3 separate regions of the Homo sapiens genome follow, and regions 1 and 2 are each linked to region 3. Evidence: fine-mapped expression QTL. A gene starts in region 3. Each other region holds a variant in brackets. All regions are shown on one strand. Distances are between the middles of the regions. Region 1 overlaps CASC8 (cancer susceptibility 8). Region 2 overlaps CASC8 (cancer susceptibility 8). Region 3 holds the start of CASC8 (cancer susceptibility 8).

Region 1 (5,536 bases), 23 kb before region 3:
TGGCTACCCAAAACCCCTTTGACCCATCAAGCGTGCTCTGGACTCAATACCTTTGCACAGGCTGATCTCCCTCTCCACCCACCCTTCCTTCCTCTCAGCTTCTCCATACAGGAAATGGACAAAGGCACAAACTGGAAGTCAGTGCAGATTCAAGCTTTGGTTTTGTTCAGAGAGTATTCCTTAATGCTCACAGAAAATCTAGCCCAGCTTCTCCTATTACAAAACTGGAAGCTGAGGACTAGAAAGATGAAGTGGCTTGCAGCTTCCCCATCAGTATGACAAGGAAACTGTATTAAATAATTCCCAAGGATTCTTCTAGCTCTCACATGCTTTCAGGTTTTCAATAAACACAAGATACAATAAAAAGCAATCAAAATAATGACCAGCTGATTTTGCTTTCCTTCATTACCCTCATCTAAGCCACCAGCAAACTCTGCTAACTCTTCCTCCAAAATAGATCCCACTCTGTCACTCCTTTTTTTTTTTTTTTTTTTTTTTTTTTTGAGACGGAGTCTTGCTCTGTCACCTAGGCTGGAGTGGAGTGGCGCGATCTCGGCTCACTGCAAGCTCCGCCTCCCGGGTTCACGCCATTCTCCTGCCTCGGCCTCCCGAGTAGCTAGGACTACAGGCACCCACCACCACGCCCAGCTTTTTTTGTATTTTTAGTAGAGATGGGGTTTCACCGTATTAGCCACGATGGTTTTGATCTCCTGACCTCCTGATCCACCCGCCTTGGCCTCCCAAAGTGCTGGGATTACAGGCTTGAGCCACTGCGCCCGGCCACTGTCACTCTCTTTTTATGGTCACCACCATGAGACAAACCACCACCACCTTGAAATGAACAGCCAGAGCAGCCTCTAACTGGCTTCTTTCCCCTCCTTACCCTGGCCCTCCTACTTGCTATATGCATGTGACAGTCTGAACGATCTGTTGAGAATTTGAACCAAATGTATTTACTTCTTTTCCCAAAACCTACCAGTAACTTTCTATCATGTCTTACCTTGGCCAATCAGGCCTTACATGATCTGGCCCCCATTTTTCTCTTTGACCAGATCTTGCACCACTATCCCCTTATCTACAAGCCTCTCTGACCTTCTGCCTGTGCCTTTGATATTCCAGGCTTCCCCTCTCTTTGGCATTCAGGCTCCTAAGAGGGCCACCCCACCCACAGTGATTCCCACCTCTCCATATTCACATCCTTTGTGTAGGCTGGACCTAGTGCTTTGCCTTTAAAGAACAGAATATGGCAAAGGTGATGGGATGTCACATCCACGATTAGGTTGCAAAAGACTGTAACTTCCATCTTATTGGCTCTCTCTCTCTCTCTCTCTCTCTCCTTCTCACTTTCTCACTCAGATGAAGCAAGTTTCCATGTTGTGAGCTGCCCTGTGAGAAGGTTTACTTGCTAGGAACTAAGAGTGGCCTCCAGCCAACAGCCAGCAAGGAAGTGAAGCCCTCAGTCTAACAGCTTGGGAGAAACTGAATTGTGCCATCAATCATGTGAGTGAGCTTGGAAGCTCTTCTATCCCCAGTCCAACCATAACAGGACTACATCCCTGGCCAACACTTTAATGACAGCTTGTGAGAGACCCTGAGACAGAAGACTCAGCTAAGCCAGGCCCAGATTCCTGACCCATAGAAACTGTGAGATAAAAAATATTGCTTTAAACCATGCAATTTTGGAGTAACATATTATACAACAATAGACAACTAAAACACCCTCTCGGAACATTTTCTCTTCTTTTTCTCTCAGCCAGAAATTCTATTTCTACTCAGGTCTTCCAATGGTTGGCTCTATCATGCAGCCTCTCAGCCCAGATGTCCCCTTCTCAGGCCTTATTCCCTAGCTAACTCTACACTCAGCCCATTACTCTGTTTCATTATGTTTATCCACTTTTAACTGCTGGAAAGATTTTATTTATTTACTGATTTACCTGTCTTCTCTATCGTAATAAAAGCTCCTCAAGAAGAGGAACCTTCTCAGATATGTTCATGGCGGAATCTCAGCTCCTAAAATAGAGCCTGGAACAAAGCCCCCTTCAATAATTACATGTTGAATAAATAAATGAAGAAATTATGAATGAAAAGGAGTTGGGGGTGGGGGAGGAATGGAGATGCTCTTCCACATGATTTTTTTAAAGCTCTAGGACATTGGACCAGCATTTGCTCTCCTGATTTATCCCATTTGTCTGCTTGAGTACATTTAAATTTTGAAGGACCCCAGGTTGTTTGTTTCTTTCAAAGATTACCCCCTAACTTCAATTTTCCTGCTTGAGTTTTTTGCAGATCTCAGCTGAATTTCAGGGTGGCAAAAACCCACATCCTCTTCCGCTGGCTCC[A/C]CCTTTCTCTTCTCCTCTTCTGCAACCCACCGACTAGTTTCAACACATCTTTCCTTCTAAGTGAAGAGCATTTAAAAGATTGTAAAGCTTATTGAACTCTTACAACACCATATCTTTATTTGTTAAGTACCAATGACTCAAAAATAGAGTAGTCTCTCCTGAAATTCATGTGGTTTTACAAATTACGGAGGAAGTTCTAGGCTCAGTGTGGATTGCCAAGTGGTGAAAATTTGTTATGTATCTTTTGCAAGGCTCCGTTTTCTTCCTTTCTACTGTCATTTTGTCTGTAGCTTGAAGGAATAGAGTGACTTATATCCCCATATTGTCACAGAGAATAGAGAATAAAAGATCATCCCATTTTTAAGGGCCCCTCCACCGAAAAATACCAGAGGATTTTGTGTTTGCTTCATTCTTAAATGCGGCCCATAAATGAGAACATTCATCCAAATGTCCAAATAATATTTGAAAAGGGGTTTCATTGAGAATTTCATTAGTAATTGGGGATGAAAAATAAAAACACTATTACACATTCCAAAAATTGACTTAGACGTGAAAGATTAGAAATTCCAAGTATGGGCCAGAATGTGGAACAATGAAAACTGTCATACTTCTGGTCAAAGTGTAAACTGGCACAAGTATTTTAGAAAACTATTTGGTATTATCTACTGAAATTTAATATAATACTATGACCCAGCAGTTCTAGGTATATATCCTCAGAAATGTGTGCACATGTGGACCAAAAGACATGTACAGAAAAGTTTATAGCAGTATTAGTTATGATAGCCCCAATCCAGTAACAACAATAGTTCTAGTTCAACAATAGTAGATGGATAAACAAGTTTTGGTATATTTGTACAATGGAATGCTACATAATAATGAAAACAAACTACTACTATATATAACAGTATGGATGAATCTCAAAGATATAATGTAGAACAAAAGAAACTAGACACTTGAAAATGCCTAAGTTATGATTTGATTTATATGGAATCCAAAAAAAAAAAAAAAGACAAGCAAACTTGGCTACCTTTGGGGAGAGGGGAGGGGCTGGATATGGGGTGATATAGGCGCTCCCAGAGTGGTAGCAATGTTCTGTTTCTTTGACCTGGGTTGTGGTCAGTTTGTCATAATTTAGTGACTTGTTCACTTAAGATTTGTTCACTTTTCTGCGTATTTGCTATAGTTCAAGTAAACAGTTTAAAAATTCAAAAAAATAAAAATAAATAAAAACAAATAAATGAAGACATACATCAGTTCAATACCAAAACATCAGTAACATGTCTGGCCAAAGGCAAGGCCTATCAAAATGGGTAACAAAGCAAAATCTTCCCTCTGCCGTTTTCAAGATACATGCCTATAACAAAATGCACAAAATATAGTCAAAGATATTCATCATACAATATTCATATTAGCACAAAATTCATTTAGATCTAAATGTCCAATAAAAGAGGATAGTGAAAGTACTTTACAGTGTATTTCTACAACAGAGTATGATATAGCCAGTAAAACTCGTGTTCTCAAAGACTTAAGTAAAATGCTCCTGGTATCTCGGTAAATGAGATTCATTCAAAGTGAAACATATAACCTCAGCCCTGTTTGTATGTGCTTACACCTTCTAAAGTAATTTTTGTCTTCAGTTGCTCTGTTTTCCTTTCTCCCTTCTGTGTAGCTTCTGTCCTCCCATCCTTTTCATTGTCCTCCAAAAGAAATCTCATTCTCAGCAGCCATGATTTCACGAGACAAGATTAGGAGAATGGGTAGAGAAAGACTGGAATGCAAAGGTAGTAAAACTTTAGATAAAATTCTTTCTTATTGGGTGTGGTTTCAGGTTCTCCTCTATTATGGAAATTCTAGATAATGAGCAAAGAAGAAAGCAAATTTAAAAGGAGACCAGATACTTATGGACATAAAGATGGCAGCAATAGAAACTGGGGACTACTAGATGGGGGATGGAGGGAGCTAGAGGGGAAAGAGTTGAAAAACTATTGAGTACTATGCTCAGTACCTGGATGGTGGAATTAGCTGCACCCCAAATCTCAGCATCATGCAATATACCCAAGTTACAAACCTTCACATGTACCTCCTGAATCTAAAATAAAATTTGAGGAAAAAAAGAAGGCCAGAGAAACTCTTCCTTACTATATTTAAAAGAAGCTTAAAATAGGGTAAGAAAGGGTTATGGGAGACTTATAAAGAGGTGAGGATAATTTGGGGTAGGTTGGAGAATCCAGAAGCTATCATATAGATTTTGGGTATGGAAAGGTAGGAGAGTAATAGAAACAAAGGTTTAGGAAGTTTTACCATGGGTTATGAATTACATTCCACTTAACATTATTTGAAGACCAAAGGTAAAGCCTGTATTTGTCCTAATAATTATCTATGGCTAATTGAGTAGCGATTTTCTGAGTATCCATGAACACATGAAGTCCTAGATTATATTAAGAGCATAAAGTAAGACATTGAGGTCATCAGAAAAGCTTGTCATGAAAAAATCCAGCACTGTTTATTTCTCTACAGTGGAACTAGAATTAATTTATATTTTGTTCTTTATATTTTTCTCAATTTTTTCCAAGCTTTCTTATATAAGAAAGTGCATGACTTATATAGCCAGAAAAATGCATATATAATATATATTATTCAGAAAAAAGTTCCAAAAAACTTACTATTGTCTGTCCCTTCAATTGCTGCTGGAAGAATGTTTGATAGCGAAGCAGAAAAAGAAAGCATGGAGAAAGGGCTCTCTCAGTATATGGGGTGGGGATGGGAGAGGAACAGCCGTGGAACCCCTCCCACCATGGCCTTGGCCTTGTTCACAGGAGAGCAGTTTGCCCTAAGTAGTTTTGTAGAAGGCATTAAAAAAATTGCATCAGGCTGGGCACAGTGGCTCACGCCTGTAATCCTAGCACTTTGGGAGGCCGAGGCAGGTGGATCACGAAGTGAGGAGTTTGAGACCAGCCTGGCCAAGATGGTGAAACCTTGTCTCTACTAAAAATACAAAAGTTAGCCAGGCACGGTGGTGGGCGCCTGTAATCCCAGCTACTTAGGAGGCTGAGGTGGGAGAATCGCTTGAATCTGAGAGGCAGAGGTTGCAGTGAGCTGAGATCATGCCACTGCACTCTAGCTTGGGCAACAGAGCAAGACTCAGTCTCAAAATAATAATAATTATTATAATAATAATAATTGCATCAATAAAACAG
Region 2 (5,536 bases), 47 kb before region 3:
CTTGCGACCCCCACTCCTGCCCGCCAGAGAACAAACCCCCTTTGACTGTAATTTTCCTTTACCTACCCAAATCCTATAAAACGGCCCCACCCTTATCTCCCTTCGCTGACTCTCTTTTTGGACTCAGCCCGCCTGCACCCAGGTGAAATAAACAGCCATGTTGCTCACACAAAGCCTGTTTGGTGGTCTCTTCACACGGACGCGCATGAAATTTGGTGCTGTGGCTCGGCTCGGGGGACCTCCTTTGGGAGATCAATCCCCTGTCCTCCTGTTCTTTGCTCCATGAGAAACATCCACCTACGACCTCAGGTCCTCAGACCAACCAGCCCAAGAAACATCTCACCAATTTCAAATCCGGTAAGCAGCCTCTTTTTACTCTCTTCTCCAACCTCCCTCACTATCCCTCAACCTCTTTCTCCTTTCAATCTTGGTGCCACACTTCAATGTCTCCCTTAATTTCAATTCCTTTCATTTTCTGGTAGCGACAAAGGAGACACGTTTTATCCGTGGACCCAAAACTCCGGCTCCGGTCACGGACTGGGAAGGCAGCCTTCCCTTGGTGTTTAATCCTTGCAGGGACGCCTCTCTGATTATACACTCACGTTTCAAGGGTGTCAGACCACACGCAGGGACGCCTGCCTTGGTCCTTCACCCTTAGCGGCAAGTCCCGCTTTTCTGGGGAAGGGGCAAGTACCCCAACCCCTTCTCTGCTTTTCTGGGGCAGGGGCAAGTACCCCTCAACCCCTTCTCCTTCACCCTTAGCGGCAAGTCCTGCTTTCCTGGGGGGCAAGAACCCCCCAGTTGCTTATTTCCGCACCCCGACCTCTTATCTCTGTGTCCCAATCCCTTATTTCCATGCCCCAACCTCGTATCTCTGCACCCCAATCCCTTATTTCCGTGCCCCAACCTCTTATATCTCTGTGCCCCAATCCCTTATTTCCACACCCCAACCTCTTATCTCTGCACCCCACCCCTTTTCTGGAAGGTAAGAACCCCCGAACCCCTTCCCTCCATTTCTCTACTCTCTCTTTTCTCTAGGCTTGCTTCCTTCAGTATAGGCAACCTTCCACCCTCCATTCCTCCTTCTACTCCCTTGGCCTGTGTTCTCAAAAACTTAAAACCTCTTCAACTCACACCTGACCTAAAACCTAAATGCCTTATTTTCTTCTGCAATGCCACTTGACCCCAATACAAACTCGACAGTAGTTCCAAATAGCCAGAAAATGGCACTTTGAATTTTTCCATCCTGCAAGATCTAAATAATTCTTGTTGTAAAATAGGCAAACAGTCCGAGGCGCCTGACGTCCAGGCATTCTTTTACACATCAGTCCCTTCCTAGTCTCTGTGCCCAGTACAACTCGTCCCAAATCTTCCTTCTTTCCCTCCCGCCTGTCCCCTCAGTCCCAACCCCAAGCATCGCTGAGTCTTTCTAATCTTCCTTTTCTACAGACCCATCTGACCTCTCACCTCCTCGCCAGGCCGAGCTAGGTCCCAATTCTTCCTCAGCCTCCGCTCCTCCACCCTATAATCTTTTTATCGCCTCCGCTCCTCACACCTGGTCCGGCTTACAGTTTCTTTCCGTGACTAGCCCTCCCTCACCTGCCCAGCAATTTACTCTTAGAAAGGTGGCTGGAGCTAAAGGCATAGTCAAGGTTAATGCTCCTTTTTCTTTATCCCAAATCAGATAGCGTTTAGGCTCTTTTTCATCAAATATAAAAATCCAGCCCAGTTCATGACTTGTTTAGCAGCAATACTGAGATACTTTACAGCCCTAGACCCTAAAAGGTCAAAAGGCCGTCTTATTCTCAAAATGCACTTTATTACCCATTCTGCTCCCGACATTAAATAAAACTCCAAAAATTAAATTCCGGCCCTCAAACCCCATGACAGGATTTAATTAACCTCGCCTTCAAGGTGTACAATAATAGAAAAAAGTTGCAATTACTTGCCTCCACTGTGAGACAAACCCCAGCCACATCTGCAGCACACAAGAACTTCCAAACGCCTGAACCGCAGCGGCCAGGCGTTCCTCCAGAACCTCCTCCCCCAGGAGCTTGCTACATGTGCCGGAAATCTGGCCACTGGGCCAAGGAATGCCCGCAGCCTGGGATTCCTCCTAAGCCGTGTCCCATCTGTGTGGGACCCCACTGAAAATTGGACTGTTCAACTCACCTGGCAGCCACTCCCAGAGCCCCTAGAACGCTGGTCCAAGGCTCTCTGACTGACTCCTTCCCAGATCTTCTCGGCTTAGCAGCTGAAGACTGACACTGCCTGATTGCCTCGGAAGCCCCCTAGACCATCACGGACGCCAAGCTTTGGGTTACTCTCACAGTGGAAGGTAAGCCCGTCCCCTTCTTAATCAATATGGAGGCTACCCACTCCACATTACCTTCTTTTCAAGGGCCTGTTTCCCTTGCCTCCATAACTGTTGTGGGTATTGACGGCCAGGCTTCTAAACCTCTTAAAACTCCCCAACTCTGGTGCCAACTTAGACAATACTCTTTTAAGCACTCCTTTTTAGTTATCCCCACCTGCCCAGTTCCCTTATTAGGCTGAGACACTTTAACTAAATTATCTGCTTCCCTGACTATTCCTGGACTACAGCTATATCTCATTGCCGCCCTTCTTCCCAATCCAAAGCCTCCTTGCGTCCTCCTCTTGTATCCCCCGACCCTAACCCACAAGTATAAGATACCTCTACTCCCTCCTTGGTGACCCCTTACCATCTCATTAAAACCTAATCACCCTTACCCCACTCAACGCCAATATCCCATCCCGCAGCACGCTTTAAAAAGATTAAAGCCTGTTATCACTCACCTGCTACAGCATGGCCTTTTAAAACCTATAAACTCTCCTTACAATTCCCCCATTTTACCTGTCCTAAAACCAGACAAGCCTTACAAGTTAGTTCAGGATCTGCGCCTTATCAACCAAATTGTTTTGCCTATCCCCCCTGTGGTGCCCAACCCGTACCCTCTTTTGTCCTCAATACCTTCCTCCACAACTCACTATTCCGTGCTTGATCTTAAAGATGCTTTTTTCACTATTCCCCTGCACCCCTCGTCCCAGCCTCTCTTTGCTTTCACTTAGACTGACCCTGAGACCCATTAGGCTCAGCAAATTACCTAGGCTGTACTGCTGCAAGACTTCACAGACAGCCCCCATTACTTCAGTCAAGCCCAAATTTTATCCTCATCTGTTACCTATCTCGGCATAATTCTCATAAAAACACATGTGCTCTCCCTGCCAATCGTGTCCGACTGATCTCTCAAACCCAAGCACCTTCTACAAAACAACAACTCCTTTCCTTCCTAGGCATGGTTAACGTGGTCAGAATTCTTACACAACAACCAGGACCACACC[G/C]TATAGCCTTTCTGTCCAAACAACTTGACCTTACTGTTTTAGCCTAGCCCTCATATCTTCATGCAGCGGCTGCCGCTGCTTTAATACTTTTAGAGGCCCTCAAAATCACAAACTATGCTCAACTCACTCTCTACAGTTCTCATAACTTCCAAAATCTATTTTCTTCCTCATACCTGACGCATATACTTTCTGCTTCCCGGCTCCTTCAGCTGTACTCACTCTTTGTTGAGTCTCCCACAATTACCGTTGTTCCTGGCCCAGACTTCAGTCCGGCCTCCCACATTATTCCTGATACCACACCTGACCCCCATGACAGTATCTCTCTGATCCACCTGACATTCACCCCATTTCCCCAAATTTCCTTCTTTCCTGTTCCTCACCCTGATCACGCTTGATTTATTGATGGCGGTTCCACCAGGCCTAATCGCCACACACCAGCAAAGGCAGGCTATGCTATAGTACAAGCCACTAGCCTGCCTCTTAGAACCTCTCATTTCCTTTCCATCGTGGAAATCTATCCTCAAGGAAATAACTTCTCAGTGTTCCATCTGCTATTCTACTACTCCTTAGGGATTATTCAGGCCCCCTCCCTTCCCTACACATCAAGCTCGAGGATTTGCCCCACCCAGGACTGGCAAATTAGCTTTACTCAACATGCCCTGAGTCAGATAACTAAAATACCTCTTAGTCTAGGTAGATACTTTCACTGGATAGGTAAAGTCCTTTCCTACAGGGTCTGAGAAGGCCACCGCAGTCATTTCTTCCGTTCTGTCAGACATAATTCCTCGGTTAAGCCTTCCCACCTCAATACAGTGTGATAACAGATGAGCCTTTATTAGTCAAATCAGCCAAGCAGTTTTTCAGGCTCTTAGTATTCAGTGAAACCTTTATATCTCTTACGGTCCTCCGTCTTCAAGAAAAGTAGAATGGACTAAAGGTCTTTTAAAAACACACCTCACCAAGCTCAGCCACCAAAAAGGACTGGACAATACTTTTACCACTTTCCCTTCTCAGAATTCTGGCCTGTCCTCGGAATGCTACAGGGTACAGCCCATTTAAGCTCCTGTATAGACGCTCCTTTTTATTAGGCCCCAGTCTCATTCCAGACACCAGACCAACTTAGACTGTGCCCCCAAAAAAACTTGTCATCCCTACTATCTTCTGTCTAGTCATACTCCTATTCACTGTTCTCAACTACTCATACATGCCCTGCTCTTGTTTACACTGCCGGTTTACACTGTTTTTCCAAGCCATCACAGCTGATATCTCCTGGTGCTATCCCCAAACTGCCACTCTTAACTCTTGAAGTAAATAAATAATCTTTGCTGGCAGGACTATGCTGAATCTCCTTAGGCACTCTCTAATCGGATATCCTGAGTTGTCCCAATTCTTAGACCTTTTATACCTGTTTTTCTCCTTCTGTTATTCCATTTAGTTTCTCAATTCATCCAAAACCGTATTCAGGCCATCACCAATCATTCTATACGACAAACGTTTCTTCTAACATCCCCACAATATCACCCCTTACCACAAGACCTCCCTTCAGCTTAGTCTCTCCCACTCTAGGTTCCCACGCTGCCCCTAATCCTGCTTGAAGCAGCCCTGAGAAACATCGCCCATTCTCTGTCCATATCACCCCCCAAAAATTTTAGCCACCCCAACACTTCAACACCATTTTGTTTTATTTTTCTTATTAATATAAGAAGGCAGGAATGTCAGGCCTCTGAGCCCAAGCCAAGCCATCCCATCCCCTGTGACTTGCACATATACGCCCAGATGGCCTGAAGTAACTGAAGAATCACGAAAGAAGTGAATATGCCCTGCCCCACCTTAACTGATGACATTCCACCACAAAAGAAGTGAAAATGGCCGGTCCTTGCCTTAAGTGATGACATTACCTTGTGAAAGTCCTTTTCCTGGCTCATCCTGGCTCAAAAACCACCCCCACTGAGCACCTTGTGACCCCCACTCCTGCCCGCCAGAGAACAAACCCCCTTTGACTGTAATTTTCTTTACCTACCCAAATCCTATAAAACGGCCCCAACCTTATCTCCCTTCGCTGACTCTCTTTTCGGACTCAGCCTGCCTGCACCCAGGTGAAATAAACAGCCATGTTGCTCACACAAAGCCTGTTTGGTGGTCTCTTCACACAGACATGCGTGAAAAATTTCAA
Region 3 (5,536 bases):
CTCTTCAAAGACAGAAGCTGCTGTACGGATTTTTCACCTGCTTCAGTGCCTAGAGAGGAACAAGGGAGAGAAGGGGAGAGAAAAAGGAGGAAGGAAGAAACAGGAGCAAGGGATATCTACTTGGTACTTTACAAGGTAGTGTTAATGAAATACACTTAAATCAAGAGTTCTGGGTTCAAGTTCCAGTCCTGACGGTGCCTATACATCCTTGGGTCATCACTCAGACTCTCAGAGCCTCAATTTCTTACTCTGAGAAATGGAAATAATAATGCCTACTTCACCAGATCATTAGGAGAATTAAATAAGGTAATGTATTGGGTAACATTTTGTAATTGTGTGCTACTGTGTAAGTTAAAATTGTATGAAGGTTTAATAAAAGGAATTGTTCTTTAAGACTTCAAGGACTTTCTGTCAGAAGTTGAAACTAGAGGATTTACCAGGATGTTTCTGGCTCTATAGGGGTCATGTCCCTTTCCAAGATGCCTCAGTTGACCAGTAAACACATTCTTTTCAAGGCTTAATATTAAAATAGTATCAAATTCTGATCTAATCTGGATCAGAAGAGAAAATACTCCAACCTACCATTGTCAACCGCAACACTGGTTGTGTTTAATGGTGATGGAATTCTGTCACTTCCACCAACACTTTTTGAGCATTCGCTGCATGCGGGGCATTCTGGTGTATACTGATAAGAAACAACAACCAAAGATAATTAAGATTGACCTCACCCTCCGAGATGTTTACAGTTTACTTTGCTTCCCTAAGCTTCAGTTTTTCCCTCTGCCAAAACAGAAGCTCGGAAGAGATGTCTCCAAGACACTTTCTACCATGACCTTTTGAATTTCATAACTCTCTAATTCCAGAATTCAAAGAGTGACTGTTTTACCTCCCACTGAATGATTCCTCTGAGAAAAAAGCTCTCTGCTAGCTAAGCTAGCCAAGACACCATACCTGAAGATAATACCTAAACTTCTGTTTGTGTCCCAGGAATCCCAAATTGATGTCACACCAAAACAATGTCATTTATACAATTCATTATATGTCACTCATTAATACATTTGCTTAGTTGATTTTCATTAAAATCCTGCAGGGAGCATTATTACACTCATTTTTCAAAAGAGATAACTGAGTCGTAAAAGGATTAAATTATTTGCCCAGGTCACACGGAAAGAAATTAACGTGGCCACGGCATAAAACCAGATTTTCTGTTTTTAAACATATTTTTTTCGCTGACCTCCACCCTGTAAGAGCTTTTATTACCAAGCGATTGAGAAGCACAGGCTCAGGGACACTGAATTTGACCAAAGAAGCCAATAGAACTATTCCAAAAACCTATGGTTCCCCCTAAAGCATTAGAAAGACTCAGAACGGGTTAAGTGCTCCCTGGCTCATTCCCAACAGACACTACATTCACCTGTGCTTGCTCTGAAATAAATCAGTGTCCCTTTCTGCTGCTGCTGTTGTCTGGAAATAATGCAAATGCAATGGGCCTTTACTGACATTGTGCTTCCCTGGAAGGATACACATAATAAATTATCCCTTAATACTGTTAAAGAGACATTTTCCTCTTACTCAGGAGCTTTTGGGGTTGGACTGGGCTACTCACCCAGCAAGGAGGAGGACATGTGTCTTGTCACTGGCCCGGTTATTCATGTGGCCTCTCATTGCTCCTTGGCTCACTGCATTGCAAGATTCAAGGATGCACTTCCAGGCCTCCACATCAAGTCATAGGACTTGCCGGTAACCTAGATTGGTTTTCTCATTTGTAATTTGAATTTATTTTATGTTATGCATTTGTATGTTTATTTATTCGGATGCTCAGAAGCTGAAGATAACTAGTGCTCCTGGTCCATGCCATTCATCAATTGGAAGAATGCCAAGCTGTTTCCGCTGAGGACAGAAGGCATTGGTCTCCCCTGCAGGAAGCCACTGCTGCTCCTTAATTGTTTGCTAGAGGAAGAATCAAGGGTAAAATTTAAAGTAAATGGCTGGCCGAGTTGCACTAATTCATCAAAGCATGTTTCAAGTCAGTAGTCAGAGCATGCATCAGCCCCCGGCGCCACCAGCTTCTACGAGAGTGGAAAAGCCAGCAGACCTCCGAGCAGATGAAATCATTAGGAGGCATTCAGCAGGGCTTGAAAAGCAAAGAGAGAGGAGGCGGGGATTTCTCTGCATGCTCCCTTTGCCACATGGGAAACACCAGCTGTCTGTGACCTAGTTATCCAAGAAAGGAAACACGGAAGAGAACCCACAAAACTGTTTGCTACATGAGAACCCCATTCTCCAAAGACATGCTGGATGTTGAGAAAACAATTAGCATCTTCTAGTTTGACTCTATTTTTTTTTTTTTTTGCTTAGAGATTTTTGGTAGCAATAAAGACAAGCCCTATTACAGTAGCCTAAGAAAATGGAATTTTTAGGGATAGCCCATGGATAGGAAGTAAAAATCTTGGTTCATGAAAGATGGGAAGTAGGAACTGGAATGTTTTTGGAAAATCTATCAGCATCTCACCTCTTTCTCTTGCTCTCTCTCTCTCATTACATGGCCCTTTATTTGTGCAACAATTCATTTTCCTACTTCTCTATGAAGGTCTCTCTTCTTGCTTTTAAGCATGAAGCCACTCATTCATTCAGTAAATATGTATTTAATGCTAACAGGTGCTGGCACTGCCCAAGATGCCAGGGCTACAGCAATCAACAAAACAGACAAAATCCCTGCCCTCGTGAAATGTACACTGTGGTGAGGCAGGTGAGGCAGGCAGAAACTGAACAAGATAAATAAGTAAAAGATACAGTGTGCAAGAGGGCAGTGAGTGCTTGGAAGAAAAGATCAAGGGAGGAGAAGTGAAATACTGGCAAAGTAGTTGAAATCTTAAATAAAATGGTCATGGGAGACCCCACTGAGAAAGTCATTTCTGAGTGAAACCTGAAGGAAGTAAGAAGTTAGCATTGCAATTGTCTGGGGCAGAGCATGCTGAGGAGAGGGAATAGCAGGTGCAAAGGGCCTGGGGTGGTTCAAGGAGCTAGCAGAGAGGCCATTGAGGAAGGAGGTTAAGCAAGTGAGGGGGATTAGTTAGAGGTGAAGTCATAGACCTGGGGGCACAGATCACAAAGCGTTTTCTAGGTCATAGTGAGGACTTTGGCTTTTACTCTGAGTGAGATCAGAAGATCCCAAAAGGCCACCACAAGATGATATTCACGTGGTCCACCTAATCCAGTAGTCAGTCCTTATTGCTAACTTGCACACAGTCAAGCTCCCTTAGTCTCCAAAAGAGGAGATCCAAGCAACGATACTTCATGAGCAGTCGGCTTCGAGAGTCATCCTGAGTTTTCAAGGCTGACACAAATATCAGTCTAACTACGCAGTCCACCTGTGTAAATATTTGGGGAATAGTGGATGGTTAAGGAAGAGACCTAGTATGAGATAAAGTGTCCAGGCCCTGCACACATTTGGGTCTCACAGAATTAACTGGCAAATGCTAGTAAGAGTATCAGGACCTTAGGAAATAGAGATTCCTTTAGAAAACTCTAATTCCCAGAAAGATTTTCACATAAGACCTTCACACAAAGACAAAATTAGAATGTGTGTTCTCTCACCATCTCCTTATCCAGAGAGTCCTTAGATGTGGCAGAAGGACCCACAAGAGTTGTCAGAGGCAGTTGTGAGGGGTTGCCAGTCATGTTAGTATTAATAGATATCATGAGAAGTTAGACACGTTTTTGAATAAATTAGAATGAATTAAATATTAACCCAAAATGTCATTATGCTCACTCCCTACCCTCCCACTATGCTTTCCTGACAGAGAAAGAAAGGGTGGCACTGTGGCTGGAATACAGAGCCCACAGGACTTCAGCATGTCCTACACATAAACCTCCTCCTTTTTGTGACCCTTGGTGGAAAAAGTATGAGAGCCACGTATCTTAGAAATAACTGCCTTTCCTCCCTAGATGCCTGCCACAAAAACAGACATGTTCTAGAACTTTCTTCTCCCTAGTTCCAAGAACACTGAACTCATGGTAATGGCCAAACAATGATCTTTTTCTAAGGACAATGTCAGAATGCTTTACTGTGCCATTTTCATAATCAGACACAAGAAAGTTACCATCTGTAGTTCAGCCATAGCACTTCACATGAAAGAGGAAATGACTAAATATATATTTACATAGCTCTCATGAATATGCATTTTGTAAATGCACAAATATGTACAATTACTTGATAGACTGTTTTGGTTCCTATCTTTCGAATATTTAATACAACTGTAAATGTTTAATTCATATTTACTGAGTTGATTGAACAGTTTCTAAATTATCCCAAGCCTTGCTGGAAACAAGATTGAATGTTTCCAGCATATTTGCACACTAGGATTTGGCCAGGAGAATCCACACTAACTGGTTAAATGATGATTTTCTTAGAAAGCATATTGAATAAGCTGCTGGTGAAATCATCTTGCTGACCACAACATAGAGGGACAGCACCAGATCTAATTCCAACCATGACCTGCAGAGCCTCTCATGACTAGGCCCCCCTGATGCCTCTTTGCACCTCTGTCTGCACTGCCCCTCATTGCTAAGCCACAATCAACCCATGTTCCACTTTCAGTCCTCTGCACCAGCTGCTCCATGTGTCCAGAATGCTCTTCACATAGACATCAAGCCTTTGCTCTAATGTCACCTTTTCAATGAGGTCTATCTTAACCTCTGCATTTGAAATTGCAATCCCATCATCCCCCAGAACTCCTGATATCCCCTACACTCCCTTATACTTTTTTGTCTATAGCAACCACCCCTCACCACTTTATAACATTTATGCTTTGTAGTCTGTCTGTGTCCACTCACTAGAATTCAAATATCACAAAAGCAGGAGTCCACTTTTTTTTTCATTGAAAAACTCCAAATCCTAGAAGGAAGCTGGCATTTAATATGTGCTCAATAGACATTAGAGGAAGAAAAGAAGGAAGGAAGGAAAGAAGGGAGGGAGGGAGGGAGGGAGGGAGGAAGGAAGGAAGGAATGAAGGAAGGAAGGAAGGAAGAAAGGAAGGAAAGAAAGAAAGTCAAGAGACCTGGGCTCAAATCCAGCATGGGAATAAGTAGGGAGGAAAGAAGGGAAGTCAAGAGACCTGGGATCAAATCCAGCTTGGGCATGAGGCAAGACCAGAGCAGAGGAGATTGTCCTTGAGCTCAGGTGACGCCCATCTGGCCAACTCTCCACAAAGCTGGGTCACACTGTTTAGAGGACAGTTCTTGGCAGTAGTAGTAGTGCTGGTGGGGAGGGCTTTGTCATTATATTGTGTGCGTGTGGTGTGGGACTCTTCCTTAGTTCAGCTAAAGACAAGCTCCCTGTCACAAGGCCATGAAAGATTAGGCTCGCAGACAATTTGAAGGGTGAGAATAATGGGATTTATTGAGCAAAAGGAAAAATGGGGGCAGAACAGGGACGCAGCAGAGCCAGAGTCTTCCTAGTATGTGCTTCCTGCTTCACAATTGAATCCCAGCTACCACCCAGGAATAGGAAGGGCCAGGCTCTTCCCCACTGCAA

Evidence for each region.
Region 1: its variant is fine-mapped to the expression of CASC8 in whole blood (TOPMed, PIP 0.95).
Region 2: its variant is fine-mapped to the expression of CASC8 in blood mononuclear cells (TOPMed, PIP above 0.99). The same link has a PIP of 0.9 or more in T cells, monocytes and whole blood.

The regions. Positions count from the first base shown.
Region 1 is chr8:127,456,024-127,461,559 of GRCh38, forward strand. All of the region lies in intron 4 of CASC8 (cancer susceptibility 8), which reads right to left. Among named protein-coding and RNA genes, the nearest start is that of CASC8, 23 kb to the right of the region's middle. The variant A/C (reference allele first, on the strand shown) is at 2,340.
Region 2 is chr8:127,431,939-127,437,474 of GRCh38, forward strand. The region is part of intron 4 of CASC8 (cancer susceptibility 8); the gene reads right to left. Among named protein-coding and RNA genes, the nearest start is that of POU5F1B, 19 kb to the left of the region's middle. RefSeq lists an enhancer at 278-1,192. The variant G/C (reference allele first, on the strand shown) is at 3,364.
Region 3 is chr8:127,479,122-127,484,657 of GRCh38, forward strand. It overlaps CASC8 (cancer susceptibility 8), which reads right to left and starts at 3,018. Exons shown (of 6, transcript NR_117100.1): 1 at 2,513-3,018; 2 at 1,607-1,950; 3 at 583-685; 4 at 1-49.